Regions from separate parts of the Homo sapiens genome. Here all the other regions are reported to be linked to region 1. The links are microRNA targets in miRTarBase. Many come from high-throughput screens and were not tested one by one. Region 1 holds a microRNA gene; each other region holds the end of a gene's coding sequence.

Region 1 (3,585 bases):
CTGGGACTCAAAGCAAGGAGTCCTCTTGTAGATATACAGTGGCAGATAAAATGAATTGAACAGACACTTTTTTTTTTTTTTGAGATGGAGTCTCACTCTGTCACCCAGGCTGGAGGGCAGTGGCACGATCTTCGTTCACTGTGAACTCCACCTCCTGGGTTCAAGTGATTCTTCTGCCCCAGCCTCCTGAGTATCTGGGATTACAGGCACGCACCACCATGCCTAGCTAATTTTTGTATTTTTAGTAGAGACGAGGTTTCACTATGTTGGCCAGGGTAGTGTAGAACTCCTGACCTCAAGTGAACCACCCGCCTTGGCCTCCCAAAGTGTTGGAATTATAGGCGTGAGCCACTGTGCCTGGCCTGAAGAAACACTCTTGAATGTGTTCTACCTACATGGGAGCTCCGTGGAGCCACAAGCTCATTCCAGGTGTTAGGAGAAGAAATTTGTGTTGGCAGCACATACAACTTGAACAGAAAGTGAGGAGAAGAAATTTGTCTTGGCAGCACATACAACTTGAACAGAAAGTGGGGCAAAGCCAAATGGGTATTCTTACATGAGAATACTGTGTCCTAGGAGTCAGGAATGTTCCCTTTAGTGTCCTCATAATTTTCTTCCATTGTCTTTTTTTGGCAGATAGCTTCTGGAATTATAATTTGTACTTTGCAAAAGAAAATGGGCCATAAAAATTATTTTAAATCAACTAAAGACTCATGAGATTTATTTGGTTACAGTGAATAACCTGGACAAAATGTTGAGAAGAGTTGTTAAAACAAGTTTACATTAAATATACTAACAATTACGTTTGGTTACATATTTGTAAGTGATGGTTATTTAGAAAAACTGCATAGAAATCCAAACCTTAAATATTCTGCAAATCAAATCATTAGCTTTTCTCTTCTCTAATAAAGTAGGGTGACTAGTTCTTGGATTAATCTAACTATAACATTAATGTAGCACTTGATTATCTTATGGAATAATTCTCTATCTCATCTAAGCCTCACAACAACCTTGTAAAGTATTATCCCCATATGGAGGAAGAAACAGGCTTAGAAGTGGAAAGGTAGATTCTCTGCTCGCACAACCGTATTATGTGGCTAAGCTATTGAACTTGAACCTAGATTTGGGACTTCATTTCAAATATGAAATTTTTTGATTAAATCTTTTTATCTTGTATGGAAAAAATATCTCATTAGCTGTCAGATGTTATTTACCCTGCTAACTGTTAAAAATATTTCATTAAAAAAATTCAGCTTCATAGCCTTTCAGTTTCCCTTTAAGAGTCAAATAAAAGTATTAATTTTAAACTGAAGTTGCCTGAACAGAAAATCGTTACCTGGGGGAAAGTACCAGTTTCTAAATCTTTTAAAAAACGTTGCCAGACAATCCATGATATAACTGGAGGTTAGTAGTCCTTCTAATTTTTAACTACAAAAATATTATAGAAATTTGTGTTTAGCCCACATTTCTAACAGTTGAATCAAAGGTGTTTATGAACATTATAATGAACAAGCCAAAACCTGCAATTAAGAATGACATGAATATATTTTCTGTTAATGATAAAAACAAACATGGGCTTGACATTTAAATGAAAATGTTTGCATTTAGGATACTACTGATAAATCTTTTAAATAACCTTACTTTCAAAACTTAGTTTAAGGTTGAACATCCCAGTGACCAGATTATGATTAACAGATTGAAAAATGATAAAGCCTGAAGTCTAAGTTTATCCAGCAGGGTGACTCATGCTTCTTTGTCATCCTCCCACGGCAGCAATTTGTTCCATGTGAATGCTAGTAACAGGCATCATACACTGTTAATGCTAATATGTAGGAGTCAGTTGGAGGCAAAAACCCCTATCACGATTAGCATTAACAGCATACAGCCTACAGCAAGCCTTCAGCACTCAGAGGATGAGGCATAAAGAATTTAAACCACAGATTTCCCCTTCCTGGTTTGTGCCACCTGCAAGAGAGAAAGAAATGTTTGTGTATGCACATGCGGTTATAAAGCTGGAGTGACAGCATATAGTAAATCTGAAAGGAAAATAGTCCATTTTCTGTTGAAAGGAAGGAGCTCATTAAATCCTTGGAAGTAATTTTTTGAAAGTGGTAGAGAAATTGGCAATTAAAAGATGACATTGTTACCTTTAGGCATATTTGAAGACTTTGAAAATTATGTTTTAAATTCTATTCTCTAGTTTTGAATCGGGTACACATATGTATCATCTTCTTTAAATAAAAAACAAAAACCGCTCTTCGGAGTTTTCAAATGCCAAAATGCAAAGAGGAAAGCTTGCATTCTGACACAGTACAGTTTTTTTTTTTTCTGATTTGTACTTCATCTAGGAGCTAGACAATTAAAGGCCCAAATGTTCAAAATAGTCCTTTATGATTTATGAAAATTAAAACCCAATTAACCTGTTTTATAAGGGTAGGGTTCAGGCTGAATTTTTCTTTCTGTAATACATAGTTGAAGTTTTACCTTTATTCTTTCAGGAAATGTGATACAAGCAATGGAGGTTTGCCTACAAACGAATCTATCTGAAAATGTCCCCGTCTACTATTTAGAGATTCCTTTGGGGAAAGCACTACCCAGTGGCTTTGGTTTTGACTACATAAAGGAAGTATGACTTAAAGAGTCCTCTGTGTTTCAAACTACTTGTCTTAGGCAGAGGGTTGATTAAAAAAAAGAACAAGATGAATTTGCTACTTCCTTTTAGAGTCTGATTTTACTCTCTCAGATAAAGTGACATTTCTCCCACAGGTTTCTGATTTCAGTGTTACTATAACAGAACCTAGAAGTTAGAGTATCATTCAAGTATGTGGTCTCCTGCAGTACAAGAGGGGAATCACCTTTTCTTTTATTTAATAATGAAACCAGCTAGATATAAAAATGTGACTAAGTTCAAAAGAAACGTATGAAGTAAAAAATTCCCCAGTGAATATATTTTGACAGGGCAGAATATCGTGGTTTGGAAATTTCCAAACCAAGGAAATATATTATTCTTACTGATAGTATTTTTTTTTAAACTTTACTGTTTTCTGAGATGAATTAGTTGATGATGAAAAAATTTGGGTTAAATGATGTCACTTCAGGAATTCAATTCATTTTACAGAATTTCAGTCAATAAAGATTGTAAAAACAAGGACTTTTTTTCCCCCTTACAGGGTCCTGGACACAGTAAATGCTCAATAAATACATATTAATAATGTAGTGTTAGTGCCACCCCAGCCAATATAACTCGCCCTTTTCTTAAAAGATGTGTTTAATTTGTATTGAAGGTAAATTGCTGGCATACTATTCTACCCATAAATTTTATTCCTGTTCTTTAAAGATAACATATGAGCACAGGTATTAAAATAAATATATTTAGTATACTAATTAGCTTTTTCCCTCTTTTTAAATATACATACGAATTGCCTGATTAGAGCACTCAGAAAAGTGACAGTGTTTTTGATAATGTGTTATATATATTAAAAATTCTAATAGCTTTTTTTATTTGTTCAAACTCTAAATGTATATTGAAATAAAACATGTCACACAGGTCCCCTTTTGTTCTCAAACACAACCTTGTCATACAGG
Region 2 (3,585 bases), not on the chromosome of region 1:
CTTTATAAACCATCAGATCTCATGAGACTTATTCACTATCATGAGAACAGCACAAGAAAGACCTCCCACCAGGTCCCTCCCATGACACATGGGAATTATGGGAGCTACAATTCAAGATGAGATTTGGATGGGGACACTGCCAAACCATATCATGGGGTTTGTCACTGGCCTGGATGGAACATCCTTGTCAAGATGCACACACACACACACACACACACACACACACTTAGAGAGACAGACAAAAGAAAGAGAGAGAGGGAGAGTGCACGGTTTATAATGAGGGATTGGACCAGGTGATTTTTTGGAAGCTGAGAAGTCCCACCATCTGCCATCTGCCAGCTGAAGGTGTAATTCCAGTCCAACCTCAAAGGCCTGAGAAGCAGAAAAGCCCGTGATGTAAATCCTAGTCTGAGTTCAAAGGTCCACGAACCGGGAAGGCCGATGAGAAAGGGCAGGAGAGGACGATGTCGCAACTGAAGTAGAGTGTGCAGATTTACACTTTCTCCACTTTCTGTTCTATTCTGGCCCTCAGGAGACTGGATGATGCCCACCTACAGTGGGAGGGCTATCTTCCTTATTCAGTCTATGTATGCAAATGCAAATCTCTTCCAGAAACACCCTCACAGGCACAATAAGAAATAAAACCGTACCGCTTGTCTGGGGCATCCTTTAGCCCAGTCAAGTTGACACATAAAATTAATCATCTGCCGGGCACGGTGGCTCATGCCTGTAATCCCAGCACTTTGGGAGGCCTAGGCGGGCGGATCACGAGGTCAGGAGATCGAGACCATTCTGGCTAACACAGTGAAACCCCGTCTCTACTAAAAATTAGCCAGACGTGGTGGTGGGCGCCTATAGTCCTAGCTACTCGGGAGGCTGAGGCAGGAGAGTGGTGTGAACCTGGGAGGCAGAGCTTGCAGAGAGCAGAGATCGCACCAGTGCACTCCAGCCTGGGCGACAGACTCTGTCTCAAAAAAAAAAAAAAAATTAATCATTATACTGGCTCATTCAAATGAACAAACTGCTTATTCAAAAAAATAAAATTGTACCTCAACTCCTGCCCTCAAATTAAAGGTCAATGCTATGGTTTGGCTAAGGAAATATCATGCATTTTAAAACCCTAATCATACCTCTAGCCCATTGCTGAAAGGGCATCTACCAATAAAAGTATCTCCAAATGATCGTTCCTTGAGTTGGTACTCACCTTTATCAGACATTTAGAGGTTTCCTTTCCACAGCTATGGTCCTTTTTGGAGCCAGCTGCTGTCATCAAGGGAGAGAGAGTGCTGGCTGCTGACCTGTGGGTGGCCAGACGCTTCTGATACTCTGCTAGCCTTGGGCTCCTGGCCCTCTTGCTTGAAAGTTGTCCTCAGCCCCTGCAGACAGACGCTCTGGGGCTTGACTGCTCCATTTCTGGACTTCCTTGCCTTCCTCTGCCCCTCGGAGTCTCCGTCATCTTCACTTTCCTTTATTTGCCGGGCTTCTTCTCCCCCGTGGCTGCTCCCCGGTCCCAAGTTTCCAGAGTTTTTACCTGCTTCCTGGTGTGCCCAAACTATCTAGTTGAATTTAAGTTTTGTTTCTGAAAAACCCAAGTCTGCAAAATCACATTAAGAACTGATAGTGAGAGTTCTTTCATTTAAATTCTTTCCTAAACAAAACAATCCTGCCTTGTTGTTAGGGGTGCCGTCAGCTTAAATATGTAAATGTCCTTCACCTTTCTTGATTTTTAAGGTTTGTTTTCAGAAAAACAGGAATTGCAACTGGATGGCAAAATGCACATTTCAGCAATACATACAAATTCACATTTATTCCTACACTGGCTACAGAGAATACTCTGTTCTCCAATGTCTATAAACAGGGCCTGGCTCATAGTTCTAATTAATTAACTTTATTAACTTAGAGCTGAAAGGAGGTGGCAACTTAAGGAAATAAAAAGCAATAGACCTTGCCCGACTAGTTCCATATAACTGCTTTTTAACTGAAGGTAAAAGAACAGTCACTTACTTATTACATGTAATAAAGCAAAATAGATGCTTAGACAGACTGCATAGCACAGTCTATTCTCAGCTTATCCACAGAATGTTTTCAAAAAAAGAGAGACAAAAGAAAGCATTTTTTTTCATTTAGTGCAAGTAGCAAGTTTATTTCCTTTGATATAGAATTAACAGAGTAATGATGCCCAAATGAGGTAATATTACATTTGCTTAGGAAAACTTTCCTTGAAACACTTATTTAGATCTTTGTTAAAGTTATTGATTGTCAGATCAGAGAAATTGCAATCCCAAGTTTATTCATAAAATAAAAAAAGTTGTTACTTTGGAAATTTCAAAATGGCAATTTTATCTCAGAGTCATAATTACAAGGGGAAAAATACTCTCTTAGCCAAGATCAAGAATTTCGGCAGCACTGCAATTCTGTTTACATCCACGTTACACAAAAGCACATGCATTTGGCAAAGAGAGTGCATACATTCTTATTGCATCATTTTTCGTTATGTGCTCAATTGCCTTATGGTCCCCTAGAGGGTCTACTTAACATGAATTCAACAATGATGATAATGGGGTCACCAGTCATTTCCTTACATATATAGCTCTGATGTATTCAATTACATGTTTTTGATGTTGTGCTGGTAGTATATAGATCCCAATTAAGGAGAAACTTGGGCCTATATAAACAATATATATGGAATATACATGGATATGTAAAGACTTGAGGTTGATGACCTGACATCCATTAATGTTAAAAATAGTAAAGTAAAAATTCCAGTGGCTTAGAAAGATGGTATTTTCTTAAGGACACACTGCTGAACACATGGCCACCTACCTGCTCTCTAAAGCAATATGTATAATTTAACCACCAAATAAAGAACTGAGGAATACCAGGAGACAAAAAAAAAAAAAAAAGGATTAAAGCCCGGTACAATCTTGAATAAACCAAAACCTCCAGTACATAGAAAAAGCATTGCAATCATATATTTAGCTTTATTTTTCTAATATATATCATAATTTAAAACTATATAAAGTCACTTACATAAAAGCAATTTTTTCAAGTGTTATAGTTTAGAGCATGGCTTTATATTTGGCTTAATCATTTTTTTTAAAAACCAGTTTAACTTATAAAGCTCGTAATCTTGCCAGCAGGGCTTCAACTTCGGGAACTGATTCATTTTTAGAAAAAGAGCCAAGAAGTTCCGTTTCCTTTTTTCTGTTGCTTTCTACATTACACGCTTCCTTCTTCTCAGCTGCCTTGATCCTCCCAGTAGACGTATGAGTGTCTAGATTATAATTAAGCTCCTTGGCGACTGGAGTCCTTGTTGAGTTGCAATTGATATTGTAGTGTGAACGTGACCCTTCTGTCAACTGCACTTTCTGATTTTCTACAGTAAGGAAAAAAGAAACATAAAACTTATCACCATGATAACCAAGGACTGTGCACGTTATGAAACACATTTAAAATAATTATTCTCAATAAATAAGTAGTCTTCTTAGATAGACTAAACAAAGAAACAGTCAACAGAGTAAGACAGGTTTAAAATAATCACACAGGGGTTTAAGAATAAACTAAAATATAACAGCCAACCGTTTC
Region 3 (3,585 bases), not on the chromosome of region 1:
CAGGGTTCTGTGTTCTGTCAAGGTATTGTGGGATTCTCATAGGTCTTCCTGGGTAGGATTAGTGATTTGGTGGCTGTCAAGGAAGGTCATGAGCCCTTGTTTCTTTAGGTACATCCTGAAGGTAAATTTGTTGTAGACGTGGACAAAAACATTGACATCAATGATGTGAGTGTAGCAGGTGAGGTGGTGGTGGTGGTGGGGTCAGCTCTTACTGTACCACTTCTGAAACTCGCCCCCTTCACCCAGGTGACACCCAATTGCCGGGTGGCTCTAAGGAATGACAGCTACACTCTGCACAAGATCCTGCCCAACAAGGTAGACCCATTAGTGTCACTGATGATGGTGGAGAAAGTACCAGATTCAACTTATGAGATGATTGGTGGACTGGACAAACAGATCAAGGAGATCAAAGAAGTGATCGAGCTGCCTGTTAAGCATCCTGAGCTCTTCGAAGCACTGGGCATTGCTCAGCCCAAGGTGAGGAGCAGGGCTTCTCTGAGAGGGCCAAGCTGTACTTACTCCTCCTGCCCCAGCCAGCCCTACTGCAGGGGTTGGGGAGGCACCGGGATAGGCTGCATCTTGCTTGGGCTGGCCCTCCCCCTGAAAAGAGTGGCTGGGGAAGTGTTCCTAGGGCGGTGAGGTGGTTTGGATAGAAGGGACCTTGATGTTCCTTTTTTTTTTTTGTATCCCTAACATCTAGCAAGGGACCCAGCACTCGGTAAATGTTCACTGAATGAAATGAGGGGTGTAGCTTTCTGCCCTGAGTCCTGCTGTTCCCCTGTAGGGAGTGCTGCTGTATGGACCTCCAGGCACTGGGAAGACACTGTTGGCCCGGGCTGTGGCTCATCATACGGACTGTACCTTTATTCGTGTCTCTGGCTCTGAACTGGTACAGAAATTCATAGGGGAAGGTAACCATGGCTAGCAATGTGAGAAGCAAGAGGTAGGGGTAGGGGGTTAGAGAGCTAATAAGCTAATAAGCTCCCTAACACCAGCTCGGCCTCCACACAGGGGCAAGAATGGTGAGGGAGCTGTTTGTCATGGCACGGGAACATGCTCCATCTATCATCTTCATGGACGAAATCGACTCCATCGGCTCCTCGCGGCTGGAGGGGGGTTCTGGAGGGGACAGTGAAGTGCAGCGCACGATGCTGGAGTTGCTCAACCAGCTCGACGGCTTTGAGGCCACCAAGAACATCAAGGTAAGGTGGTAGCATCCTTGGGATGGGCCCAGGGAAGGCCTGGGTGCCACGCAGGCTGAGGAAGAGGTTTAGCTGATCCCCACTTGCTTTCTCTGCTCAGGTTATCATGGCTACTAATAGGATTGATATCCTGGACTCGGCACTGCTTCGCCCAGGGCGCATTGACAGAAAAATTGAATTCCCACCCCCCAATGAGGAGGTTTGTGATGGACACTGTGCAAAGTGGCTCTGGCTGTGGGGGTGGGGTGTGGGGCTCAGGCTTTTCCTTGCCATCTCCAGGCCCGGCTGGACATTTTGAAGATTCATTCTCGGAAGATGAACCTGACCCGGGGGATCAACCTGAGAAAAATTGCTGAGCTCATGCCAGGAGCATCAGGGGCTGAAGTGAAGGTAATTGGAGTACCCACTGAAAACAGGGCAGAGGCAGGAAGCTCTGGGCTCAAGGGCCACAGATGAGGGGCACAGCAGTGGGGCCTCAATTTCCTTTTCCTGTTCAGGGCGTGTGCACAGAAGCTGGCATGTATGCCCTGCGAGAACGGCGAGTCCATGTCACTCAGGAGGACTTTGAGATGGCAGTAGCCAAGGTATAGGCCTCCATCTTTGTGCCTTTGCCAGTGGTGGCTCTGGGGCAGTGGGCTAGGGCATGTGTGTGTTCGTAACTTAATGTTCATTCTCTCTCCCACCCCTAGGTCATGCAGAAGGACAGTGAGAAAAACATGTCCATCAAGAAATTATGGAAGTGAGTGGACAGCCTTTGTGTGTATCTCTCCAATAAAGCTCTGTGGGCCAAGTCCTCTAGGACTCCAGTCTGTTAATGAGGGCTGTGCTGTTCAAGGACCAGGTCCAGGCACCACCAATAGACAAAAGGATTTATTTGGAAATTTCCAAACCTGCCAGATGTGGCACTCGCCAAGCCCTAGGCCCACCCTCCTCACCAAGCTCCAAAGGGCAACACCAGTCCTCCCAGCCTCCCCATTCACCTTACCCTGGCCTCCACATGCACATACCCCATACCTCAGGCCATGCTAGAGAACTGGAGTGTCCCCTCCCCGGCCCAAGCCGCTGGAGAGGCAGCCCTCTGGCATCCCAGGAGATGATGGCGGCCAGAGCCGCTTGCATAGATTGAGGAAAGAAAAGAAGGAGGCACCTAACAGGCTCCCTGAAAACCCCCAACTTACCCCTGTACAAAAAAAGTGGCTCCCACATAGAAAACTTGCTCCCAAAATAGTGCAAATACCCAAAGGAAAGGAAAAAACCAGCAGCAAGGCTGGGCTTGTAGGAATGGCAAAGAACTTTGGTTTAGAAAGGCTAGGAAGAGTCTGGGCTGCACCTCCTCTTCCTAGCCCAGCTCCCCAGAGCCAGCTCTGACCCTCGCCCCAGGGGGAGTCTGTAAACATGCAAACCCAGCAGCCTTTGGTTCGGAAATGTCTTACAATGTCAAAGCACAGCCTCCAGCAGTCCTACTTGGGCCTGCCTGCAGGGGGGCAGAGGAGGCATCTGCTGAACCCAATTAAAGCCAATGCAAAAAGTATAAGGCTTTGGGGACCAAGCAACAAGGAATCCTATCACTACATTTATAAGACTAAAGCTGGAGAGTAGAGGGTGACAGCAGACACTCCTCACCCCAGCCTACGTGTCTGCGGCCCCAGCAAGGACCCAGAGGGTGGTCTCCCTCCAGGCTCCAGGGCTGGGAAGAAAGATCCCTGAGCAGTTAGGTCAGGCGAATTCCCAGCACCTGTTCCAGTTCCTGCCTTCGCTGCTGCACCTGGAGAAGGGAGAAACCAAGTGGCTCAGGCCTTTGCTACTCACGGCCAAAGGAGGGAAAACAGGGCAGAGCCTCACCTTGGCAAAGATGTGCCTGCCTACTGCTTCCTGGGCCCAGGGCTGGTGGTAGAAAGCAGCTCGTCTCTCCTCCTCAGGATTTCCAATCACATCAGTGATGATCTGCAAAGAGCCAGGAGGAAAGCCATAGCATAATCCCCACCCCTGGGCTAATCCACCCTGGGAACTGCTGTGGGTAAAAATCACCCAGAGCTTTACATAGGAGTCCCCTCGGGAAAGAGGACTACACCTTGAGGTCTCGGCGCTGGGAACGGAGCCATTCCTGGATGAAGTCCTGGGGGTCGGTGCTAAAACTGAGCATGAAATCTCTCTGGGTCTTCAGCTGGTTGATGGACTCAATGGTCTCATGGATCTGGAGAGGGTACCTGTGTCAGACTGTGCCCCCAAAGCTTACATGCAAGCAACTGAGCCAGAGTTCCCATCCCGTCCTCCAGGTGCTACATGTATGGAAATGCTGGACAGAGCCAGCCCACCCCAATCCTGGGCCCCAGAGGAAGCTGTGGAGCCAGAGGGCCCACCTTGACATCAAGGGAGGCGATCT
Region 4 (3,585 bases), not on the chromosome of region 1:
AATGTAAACATATTAGTTGTCAGGTCAGATTAGTAGCTCTGGTTGTTACGAATAATACAGTAGGTTAAGCAATCCTAAAATAAATATACTTCTAAATTTTGAACATTTTTCCTCTTCCTTTCACAGATTTTCATAATTTGTTCACTGGTGTATGGCTCCTACTACTACTGCCCAAGATATTTCACATTTAGTCTTCATCAAGATGAAATTTAGATTTTTCAAAAACAATGACCAGTATATGTTTTTGATCTAATTTACCAAATGATTATACACTAATTTGATAGTGGAGATGATACATGAGTAAAATATTGTTAAAATACAATGTATAGAATAGATGTGTTTATAATTAAAATCTTTTTTTTTTTTTGAGGTGGAGTTTCACTCTTGTTGCCCAGGCTGGAGTGCAATGGTGCAAGCTCGGCTCACTGCAACCTCTGCCTCCTGGGTTCAAGTGATTCTCCTGCCTCAGCCTCCCAAGTAGCTGGGATTACAGGTACCTGCCACAATGCCCAGCTAATTTTTTGTATTTTTAGTAGAGACGGGGTTTCACCATGTTGGCCAGGCTGGTCTCGAACTCCTGACCTCAGGTGATATACCCGCCTTGGCCTCTCCAAGTGCTGGGATTACAGGCGTGAGCCACTGCGCCCGTCCTAAAATCATTTTCCACAGTCTTTCAAATTCCCTTATCTTTTGGGAATAGGGGATTAAAAATAGTATAATAGGATATATTTAATAATTTGATTGCTATAAACAAAGAAAACTGAATTGGGGATTTAAAACTAAATATGTGATGAATCTATTTTAAACTGCTTTTCTTTAAATAAAGTCTGGGCCAACTACAATAGTGCACCTATTTCTATGCAATAGATTTATTCAAATCAATGAAAAAGTTATTGCTATATATTATTATGTTATTCAGACAAGCAACATAGAAAATACTCAGACTATCAATTGTTATTAGTTGCTCCTGTTGAGTTCTAAATTAGAAGAGACTAAAAATCACTTGCAAGGTTTTATAATCTGTGCAAATATTCATAAAGCATGATACTACATTTATGATTAAAAATGATTTTACATAGTTTTGTAGTATATATTCAAATCTACAACTGGCAGTTTATGGAAGAACAAAGAACTGTAAATTGCCCGGCTATAGTATTCAAGAAATAAACATATATACTAACAAATGAACCTATGTTTTATAATTACAAATGGCTTCTTAACAATAGTCTAGAACATTATGGCACTTAAGAATATAATATGAATTTTTTTCTTAAGAAAAATTATCTTGCAGAGACTTTATAAGGAGATCGCAAACAGGTTTAAAAAAAATCAAGGAAAAGAAAATCAAATGACTACAGTTCCAAAATACAAGTACCGACATAATAATAAAATGCAAGTGAATGTGTTTAAGACTAACAGACATTTACTAAAACATGCTAAAATCAAATAAGTTAAACACTTTCTTTAAATAAGCTGTCACTGGCTACAGCAAACAATTTTGCTTTAAAAGATCATTTCTTTAATCAAAGTAGAACTCAACTTAGAACTATTACTCAAGTAAACATCGAGTTCCAGTTTTCCTCAATAACCTTAAAATATTCAGTTACCTAAGAAATGTACAAAGTAATGCATAACTGCCTAGTGCTTTATATTTAATGCATATATTTCTGTTTTTAAGAAAGACATGTAATATCTAGCACAAGAAGAAAGAAGATCAAAAGTGTAACTTTCTTTAAATCACTATTCAGGAACCATGAAAAGCATAACACAGGCCATTCTGATGATTTTTGGATGTTAACATTGGCGTAATCACTAACATTTTTAATAAGCACAAATGAATCAAGCCATTAAAAATGCAAAAGACTATCAAAACATGTCATGCATATCTCATACTGAACATCCAAAAGGACATCAGTTATAGCCTTGTTATAAATCCTACAGTTAGCACCATTTTATATCTGAACACTTTGAAAAAGCAAAGATCTTAAAAAACTAAAATTATAAGGATATATAAAAAAATTAATATGCACTAAGAATGGTACTAAACACTGCTCAAATATTTACATCAGCACTGGGAGGCCTGCTGTACTACTGAAGAAAAACTGAAACACCTGATATGCTTAAACTCCTATCCATGCTAACCATAGCATAGATAGGTAATTAAATTCATCCAACGTTAACCTGCCCATATACAAAAGGCATAAACAGTAAATATCTGATTTCCTAAAATAGGGCCCCAAATATCATGATAATAAAAGCAATTGTCTTAAAAATTTATTACATCCGTAGCCCTAAAACCATTTAGCAGGAAAGTATTCAGATGACTACCTATTGGCATGTTATTTACAACCTTTAAAAGTACCAAAATAAAAAGCAGCCCTTTGTTTGTTTTAAAACAAATGAAAAATGTGAAGCATTTACATCCAAGAAGCAGTATCAGCACTCTGTCCATTCATTCAATACACTCCAGCACCTAAAGCATCGCTCATCCTAGAAAATCATGGTTATCAGGGAAGGAGAGCTAAAATAAAAAAAAAAAAAAAAAAAAAGCAGCCACGTTTTGTCTACATGTACACTTATGAACATAAAACTAGTACATCTCAGTCTTGGGGGAAAAAGTGCAGAATTCAATTGGCAAAGTCTTTACTTTTTTTTTTTCTCTTTTTTCTTTTTGATTATTGATTTACTGTGTAATCAAGAGCAACCAAAACTACTTCTCAATTAAAAGTACCCAACAAAACTTTTGAGCCTTCATGCTACTTCAAGTTAAAAAGAAAGCAATGCAGCTTGTGGGTTTCAGAAAACTGGGCCATCCGGATGTTCATGCAGTACAAGTTTCACCACCATACTATTTCCGAGAGTTCACATTTGTCAAAGTGCAGTTAACCCAAAGTTGCAGCGACAGTATATCATGCCAGCTGAATCCAGCCACGTATCTGAGATAGGATCATATTTCTGCACTGTATTCAGATAGGAAGACCCTGAGTGACCACCGACGACATAAAGGTAGTTATCGATTACAGCAGCACCAACTCCTAGGAAAGGTTGGCAAAAAGAAGATAGAAACATGTTAACCATGAAGTATACTTTTTCTCACTAAAAATAAATTTGTATTTTAATGTTTTATTAAAATACATTTTAACAATCTATTATTAATTATACAGGCAATATACAGTAGTCCTCCCTTTATCTGAGTTTTTGCTTTCCATGCTTTCAGTTACCTGAAGTCAACCATGACTAGAAAATAGGGAGTACTGTACAGTAAGATATTTTGAGGGAGACCACATCCACATAACTTTTATTACAATATATTGTTACAATTGTTCTATTCTATTATTGTTGTTGCTAATCTCTTACTGCGCCTAATTTACAAACTAAACCTTATCATAGATATATATGTATAGGAAAAAATATTACATATATAGGGTTTGGTACTATCTGCAGTTTCAGTCCACTGGGGGTCTTGGAATATATATCTCCTGTGGGTATGGGGGGCCTACTGGAGCAATATGAGCTTGATGGAAAAACAAAATCCTTATAATAAAAGTAAGAGTTACTGAGGTGAGAGGATGGCTGGAGGCCAAA
Region 5 (3,579 bases), not on the chromosome of region 1:
AGTTGAAGACTTTGATTTCTTCCCTCCTCTCATCCCTCAAAAAACTCACTCTTCTCTGCTAAGAAATCTAAGCTCACATAATGGCTGATTCATTAGAGCCTTGGGCTCCAAGGATAATGAACCAGAAAGGAGATGGATCTTTCTTTTTCCTCATAGGTGAAAACGCTAGAATACATCAAGAAGCAAAGCAAACAACCAGACATGACTCATCTGACGGAGCTGGCCCTCAGACTCCCTCTGCAAACAAGGACCTGACCCCCGGGCCCATCCCCAGGCTCAGGGACTCTGGTGCCAAATCCAGAAAGATCTGCTCTGCTGCCCTGAACTCTTACGGCAATTTAGGTTTCTCATTTTTCTTTTCTTTTTACATATGTACAAATTGTTTTAAGCTTTGGCCTCTATCCAGGTTATTCTGACAATGAAGAAATGGGAGTTGTCAGAGCATTAAAATGCAATCTTCACTAAGAAGCAGTCTCTGTGTTGTCTTTGCACAAGTGGCCTTCGGTCTACTCAGCCCGATCTGATGGGCCTTTTTAGCAAGAGAGAAACAAGAATGCAAGTAACATCTTTCTTCTCTGGAAGGTGTTTGTTTTTTCATAGTTTAGAAATAAGGACTTTAAAAGTGGACTGCTTTTCAAAGTGCCACTGTTCCAGACCCATTCCATTCCAGACTTTGTACCTTAAAGTTAGAGCACACCCAAAGTCTGGAACTGTGTTACCTGAACCCCTATGGAGGATTTATAAAAGGCAGAAATAGCACTCCATTAACTCTTTTTCCTATCAAAAGCAGCTCTTGATTGGACTTAGAATCTGTGTTGGTGGATCAAAGGAGAAAGCGAGGTCAAATTTGAGATTCTCTGTGGCTTCAGTATACAGTAACTGAATAAATGTCCTGAAGGAGCATTTATGTTCATGACTGTTCATTTAATTACTTCTGACTGTCTTCCTCCAGAAGAGAAAGACCGTGTCTAAATATATTATCCTGGTTTGTTTTGCAGCCACAATTCTAAACAGCATGTGATTCTGTCTGCTTTTCTTCCAACAGTTTGGTGGAACCTGATTCTTCTATTACGGCTGGTGAGCTTGCACCGACATTTCATTTTGAATCAGTAAAAACATTCATACTGATGGGTGATTCATCATCTCAGCCACTGCCATTATGAAAATGCATCCACACTGTGGATTAAAAATGCCCCAAACTATTGTGCTTCTACAAGATCCACACTGGAACTGGACATAGATTACATTTCATCTTTACTCTGAGAAATACAAGACTACAGTTGAACACTCAGTTAACCTCAGACAGTAAAAGGGGCTAAAAAATTTTTTTAAATCAATTTATTGGCCGGGCACGGTGATTCACGCCTGTAATCCCAGCACTTTGGGAGGCTGAGGCAGGCAGATCACCTGAGGTCAGGAATTCGAGACCAGCCTGGCCAACATGGTGAAACCCCGTCTCTACTAACAATACAAAAATTAGCCAGGCGTGGTGGCACACACCTGTAATCCCAGCTACTTGGGAGGCTGAGGCAGGAGAATCGCTTGAACCCAGGAGGCGGAGGTTGCAGTGAGCCGAGATTGCGTCACTGCACTCCAGCCTGAGTGACAAGAGCAAAATATCATCTCATCTCAAAAAAAATTAAAGGACAGCAGACACTAATGAATGCTTCTTTCCCTCCCCTCTACTAAATCATACAGAAACTCAGACAGCATTGTGGGGTGGCTCAGATACTCCCAAGTGGCCTTTATTTCACAAAATTCTGTTTTTTTTTCTTTTTTTTGAGACAGTTTCACTCTTGTTGCCCAGGCTGGAGTACAATGGCGTGATCTCGGCTCACCCCAACCTCCGCCTCCCGAGTCTAAGCAATTCTCCTGCCTCAGCCTCCTGAGTAGCTGGGATAACAGGAGTGCGCCACCACACCCAGCTAATTTTGTATTTTTAGTAGAGATGGGGTTTCTCCATGTTGGTCAGGCTGGTCTAGAACTCCTGACCTCAGGTGATCCGCCGCCTCGGCCTCCCAAAGTGCTGGGATTACAGGCGTAAGCCACCGCACCTGGCCCACAGAAGTATTTTCATTAAAATTATTTTATCTACTTTTACTGTGTGATGCTATAAAATGAAAAACAATTGGCAAATTCACAAATTATGTTCTTCAAGTCATTTCTTCTCCTCTGAGGCTGAACGTGGTGGGCAGCATTAGTTCCCAAGCCTAGGCCAGTGAATTCTTACCGCTCTCACATTACACCTGAACTTGGACTTTCACATGAGGTCGGGCACCCATTATATCAAAGGTGCTTCTGAATCCTGTCATGTGGCCCAGGCAGAGGCTTAGATTTTATATGTCCTTGTGTGTGCAGTTTCCCCCAGCCCTTTACTGAATCAATAAGCCGGTCTCTGAAAACACTGGTCTATGTGAGATGAAGTCTATCATTAGCAAGGATGGAGCAATAAGATGTCAGCCAGAATTGTAGAAAATAAAAATGATGGGGCCTGGGTGCGGTGGCTCATGCCTGTAATACCAACACTTTGGGAGGCTGAGGTAGGTGGATCATGAGGCCAAGAGATCAAGACCATCCTGGCCAACATGGTGAAACTCCATCTCTACTAAAAATACAAAAAAAAATTAGCTGGGTGTGGTGGTGCTCACCTGTAATCCCAGCTTCTCAGGAGGCTGAGGCAGGAGAATCGCTTGAACCCTGGAGGTGGAGGTTGCAGTGAGCTGAGATCACGCCTCTGCACTCCAGCCTGGGCGTGGAGTGAGAGTGAGACTGTCTCAAAAAAAAAAAAAGAAAGAAAAACAAAACCATGGCAACTTCCACATGAGACTTACTTACATTAGGTCTTCTATTGTTACTTTAACAAATTGCCACAATTGTAGCGGCTTAAAACATAATGTTGTCATCTGACGGTTCTATAGGTCTTAAGTCCGCCTGGTCTCACTGAGCTAAAATTAAGGCATCAGCAGGGCTACGCTCCTTCTGGGAGGCTCTAGGGGAGAATCTACTTCCTTGCCTTTTCCAGCTTCTAGACAGCACACACATTCCTTGGCTTCTGACCCTTCCCTTCCCATCTTCAAAACCAGCAGTGTCTAGTCAAGTCTTTCTTAAGTCTCTTTGATGTGGACTCTTTTTTGCCTTCCTCTTCCACATTTAGGGATCTTTGTGATTCCTCCGGCCCACCCAGAAACACGGGATCCTCTTCCTGTTTTAAGGTCAGCTGATTAGCAAACTTAATTCCCTTTTGTTTCGTAACCTAACAAATACACAGGTTCTGAGGAGATGTGGTAGGAAGGGGTGTTATTCTGCCAACTTCTTTTGTGAGGACTGTGTCTATTTGGCAAATTTTTTTTTTTTTTTGGAATGGGGTCTTGCTCTGTCACCCAGGCTGGAACACAGTGGTGCAATCATGGCTCACTGCAGCCGTGATGGAGGGTGGTGCTCAAACCAATGTTAATTTACAAAGGATGGGAGCTCAGAGTGATTCTCCCAAGACAAGACTGCCAGAGGGTGGGGTCCTGCTCATCTGAGAGATGGTGATCTGCACTGGCAGAAAGCAAAAGGACAAGATTAAGTCCATTC
Region 6 (3,000 bases), not on the chromosome of region 1:
CAGGAGGGCCTGGAGGGGGCGCCTCTGACACCGGAGGACCTGATGGGTGTGGCGGGGAGGGTGGGGGTGCCGGAGGAGGTGACGGTCCTGAGGAGCCTGCTTTGCCCAGCCTGGAGGGCGTCAGTGAAAAGCAGTACACCATCTACATCGCACCTGGAGGCGGGGCGTTCACGGTGAGAGCTTCTGAGGGCAGTGGTAGAAGAGGGGAGAGGAGGGAGGGTGGTCTGGGCCACATAGAACCATGAGCCTGGTCTAACTCATCAGCACTCTTCCCCTATACATCCTCTATCTCTTTCTATGTCCCCTCTCCTTTCCCATCATCCATGTCCTTTTTTGCCTTATCGCTTTTATTATTCCTTTTTTCTTTCCTCCTCCCTTGGTCACCTTTTGCCTCTCATTCATTTCCTTTTCCATCTTCTCCAACTTTCCTCTCTCTTTTCCCCTCTCTCCCTTTTACCCCCTCCTCAGACGTTGAATGGCTCGCTGACCCTGGAGCTGGTGAATGAGAAATTCTGGAAGGTGTCCCGGCCACTGGAGCTGTGCTATGCTCCCACCAAGGATCCAAAGTGACCCCACCAGGGGACAGCCAGAGGAAGGGGACCATGGGGTATCCCTGTGTCCTGGTCTATCACCCCAGCTTCTTTGTCCCCCAGTACCCCCAGCCCAGCCAGCCAATAAGAGGACACAAATGAGGACACGTGGCTTTTATACAAAGTATCTATATGAGATTCTTCTATATTGTACAGAGTGGGGCAAAACACGCCCCCATCTGCTGCCTTTTCTATTGCCCTGCAACGTCCCATCTATACGAGGTGTTGGAGAAGGTGAAGAACCCTCCCATTCACGCCCGCCTACCAACAACAAACGTGCTTTTTTCCTCTTTGAAACCTGCAGTTCTGTGTGTCTGTTTATCAGGGGTGTACAAGAAAAAGAAAGGAAAATAGATTGGGGAGGGAGGCCTAGAAATAATGTAAAATCAGCCTTGGAAATGGGGAGAAAATGTCGGGTTATTCGAGATATGTCGTCGGAAACTCCAAATTAGCAAATATGTATGAAAATAGGAACCATCTATGAAGCTGGAAGAGAGGATAAAAAACAGAGGTGCCAAGTTAGACCCCAAACTTTCCCCCCTAAAACCTGAGTCGCCCAGGCTGAAATCCAGGGTTTCAACACCAAAGGGAAAGCAGGAAAATGGCTCAAAAGAGAAAGGGATGTGTGTAGATGTGGGAATGACCGTGATGTTTGGAAGTCACTGCGAGCAGCCGGTTTCTATAGCTGGAAAGAGGGAGGGAGGTGGAGAGGACTGCGGAGAAGCTCCCTGTTCGACATCCCAGTCCCCGGGCCACCTCCCAAAAAAGGGCAGGCTGGGCTGCAGACTCGGAGTGTGAGTGCACAGCCTTTGCCCGCCGGGCAGCGGGGCTGAGCGGAGGGAGGGTCGCCTGGGAACACTAGTTCTGTGCTCGTCCAGGCAGCGGCTGAGAGCAGAGGAGTGGGGGCATCAAGGAAAGCCGCGGCTGCCTTACTGGCCTCGAGTTCCGCGAGCGGGGCTGGGCACCAAGCCTGAGGCTGGGGGGACAGGGGCGCACGACTGCACTCCCGGTCCGGGGCAGTGCAGGTATTCGGGGAAGAGGAATCGCCTCTCCAGAACCGACTGCTGTTCCTTCCACCACCCGTAACCTCTCTGCCCCTCACTTCCTGTTTCCTCTGCTCTGGGTACCCCCAGCCCCTCTGGCCCCAAATTCCTCCCCCATGCTCAGTTCTCTGTCTCACTGGCAGAGGAGCCGGCCGTGTTTCCCCCTAAAGCCCGCTTGGCCCTCCCAGTTCCGCAGCTGCGCGGCCCGCCCGCCGATCCCATGGCTCCCTTCTCCACCCTTGGGATTTCTCGTTTGTTCGCCTCCTCTCCGGTACCCTCAATCCCGTAGATGCAGGTGGGCATCCTCCAGCCCCAGCAAGTACTGCGGACCAGTTGGGCTGGCTGGCCCCTTTCCTGCAGAAGCAGACAACACCCACTTCTACCCTCGTAGGAGCCCCTTTCTACACTCACTTCCCTGGAACCCGTGATCCTGACTCCCCTCCTCCCGGACCCCAAGCATCCAGGACGTGTACGGTATAAGGGGAAGTTGTAGTGGGAGGCAGGTGGGCGTTGTTCCTGGAGTTTCAGGGTAGAGAAGCAGGTGGGGAGGAGTTGGGTGAGATACAGAGGTGGAAGCCAAAAGTCTGGAGTTAACCTGACTTCTCTTCTGGCTCCAGGGGCTGCCGGGATCGTCTGTCCTCACCCTCCTTGTCCTCCCCAGCCCTAACCACCCGGCAGCCTCTTCTCTGTCTCTGCTGCCCGTCCTGCCTTCACTCTGAAACAGCCTGCCCCCTCCCGGGTCCCCAGTCCTCACCTTTGCCCCACACGCCCCCCTCTCTATTTATCACATTTCCTTTCGTGTCCCCCTAACCCCATCGCTTGGTGCGAGTGCTCTCTTGCCCTCCTCTCCCCATGACTGAACCTCACAGACATGGCTGTTTATTTAGGTGACACCATGTGGGAGACACAGAGGAACCCATTTCCATCCTGGCTCCACTGGGGCATTTCCTTTCCAAGTCCTTCAGTCCCTCCCAACCAAGCCTATGTTACTGGGTCAGGCAAGGTGAGAGATATAAAGTATGCAAAAGAAAACGTTACTATTTTGTTGAGGAACAAGATACATGTGGAATAGTTGACAATGCAGAGGAACAGGGTAGAGGAAGGAGGGTTGATACAGTATTAGAGTCAGACAAACGTGGGTTCAAATCGGCTCTGCCACTTACAAACTGAGCCACCTTGCACAAGGCACTGGGTCTTCCCTCTGTTTCTTCACCTGCAAAATGGGGGAGAGTAACAGGTTGCCCTGAGAATTGAGAGATAATACAAGTAAAGTTACACGCCTAACAGATCAGTGGCTCTCCCAGTGTGGATCCCAGACTAGCAGCATCAGCATCGCCTGGGAACTTGTTAGAAATGCAAATTCTTGG

What was found. Region 1 holds the annotated microRNA hsa-miR-155-5p (UUAAUGCUAAUCGUGAUAGGGGUU, at 1,852-1,875, opposite strand). A microRNA usually pairs through its seed, bases 2 to 8, with sites in the 3' UTR of a target mRNA and lowers its output. Matches are read on the target gene's strand: a 7mer-m8 pairs with bases 2 to 8, a 7mer-A1 pairs with bases 2 to 7 and ends in A, and an 8mer does both.
Region 2: miRTarBase lists DIAPH3 as a target of hsa-miR-155-5p. The part of its 3' UTR that is shown has no 7-base or 8-base seed match.
Region 3: miRTarBase lists SMARCD2 as a target of hsa-miR-155-5p. The part of its 3' UTR that is shown has no 7-base or 8-base seed match.
Region 4: miRTarBase lists KLHL28 as a target of hsa-miR-155-5p. Seed matches in the 3' UTR shown: 7mer-A1 at 1,653-1,659.
Region 5: the mRNA of VPS35L is a reported target of hsa-miR-155-5p. Seed matches in the 3' UTR shown: 8mer at 441-448.
Region 6: the mRNA of RING1 is a reported target of hsa-miR-155-5p. The part of its 3' UTR that is shown has no 7-base or 8-base seed match.

The regions. Positions count from the first base shown.
Region 1 is chr21:25,572,273-25,575,857 of GRCh38, reverse strand. MIR155 (microRNA 155) reads right to left here and starts at 1,878; the gene lies at 1,814-1,878. It overlaps MIR155HG (MIR155 host gene), which reads right to left. Exons shown (of 3, transcript NR_001458.3): 3 at 690-1,965. RefSeq lists an enhancer at 54-203 and a silencer at 1,755-1,934.
Region 2 is chr13:59,663,471-59,667,055 of GRCh38, forward strand. DIAPH3 (diaphanous related formin 3) reads right to left here. Exons shown (of 28, transcript NM_001042517.2): 28 at 2,113-3,376. The coding sequence ends at 3,114. Among named protein-coding and RNA genes, the nearest start is that of DIAPH3-AS1, 350 kb to the right of the region's middle.
Region 3 is chr17:63,830,025-63,833,609 of GRCh38, forward strand. It overlaps SMARCD2 (SWI/SNF related BAF chromatin remodeling complex subunit D2), which reads right to left. Exons shown (of 13, transcript NM_001098426.2): 10 at 3,563-3,585; 11 at 3,274-3,396; 12 at 3,045-3,146; 13 at 2,057-2,967. The coding sequence ends at 2,914. It overlaps PSMC5 (proteasome 26S subunit, ATPase 5), which reads left to right. Exons shown (of 12, transcript NM_002805.6): 5 at 109-165; 6 at 247-477; 7 at 785-911; 8 at 1,012-1,202; 9 at 1,303-1,401; 10 at 1,482-1,592; 11 at 1,700-1,786; 12 at 1,892-1,995. The coding sequence ends at 1,945. Among named protein-coding and RNA genes, the nearest start is that of FTSJ3, 4.2 kb to the left of the region's middle.
Region 4 is chr14:44,926,157-44,929,741 of GRCh38, forward strand. KLHL28 (kelch like family member 28) reads right to left here. Exons shown (of 5, transcript NM_017658.5): 5 at 1-3,035. The coding sequence ends at 2,872. Among named protein-coding and RNA genes, the nearest start is that of DORIP1, 31 kb to the left of the region's middle.
Region 5 is chr16:19,700,222-19,703,800 of GRCh38, forward strand. It overlaps VPS35L (VPS35 endosomal protein sorting factor like), which reads left to right. Exons shown (of 31, transcript NM_020314.7): 31 at 157-942. The coding sequence ends at 255. It overlaps KNOP1 (lysine rich nucleolar protein 1), which reads right to left. Exons shown (of 5, transcript NM_001012991.3): 5 at 1,716-3,579. Among named protein-coding and RNA genes, the nearest start is that of KNOP1, 16 kb to the right of the region's middle.
Region 6 is chr6:33,211,830-33,214,829 of GRCh38, forward strand. RING1 (ring finger protein 1) reads left to right here. Exons shown (of 7, transcript NM_002931.4): 6 at 1-173; 7 at 469-887. The coding sequence ends at 570. Among named protein-coding and RNA genes, the nearest start is that of RING1, 4.8 kb to the left of the region's middle.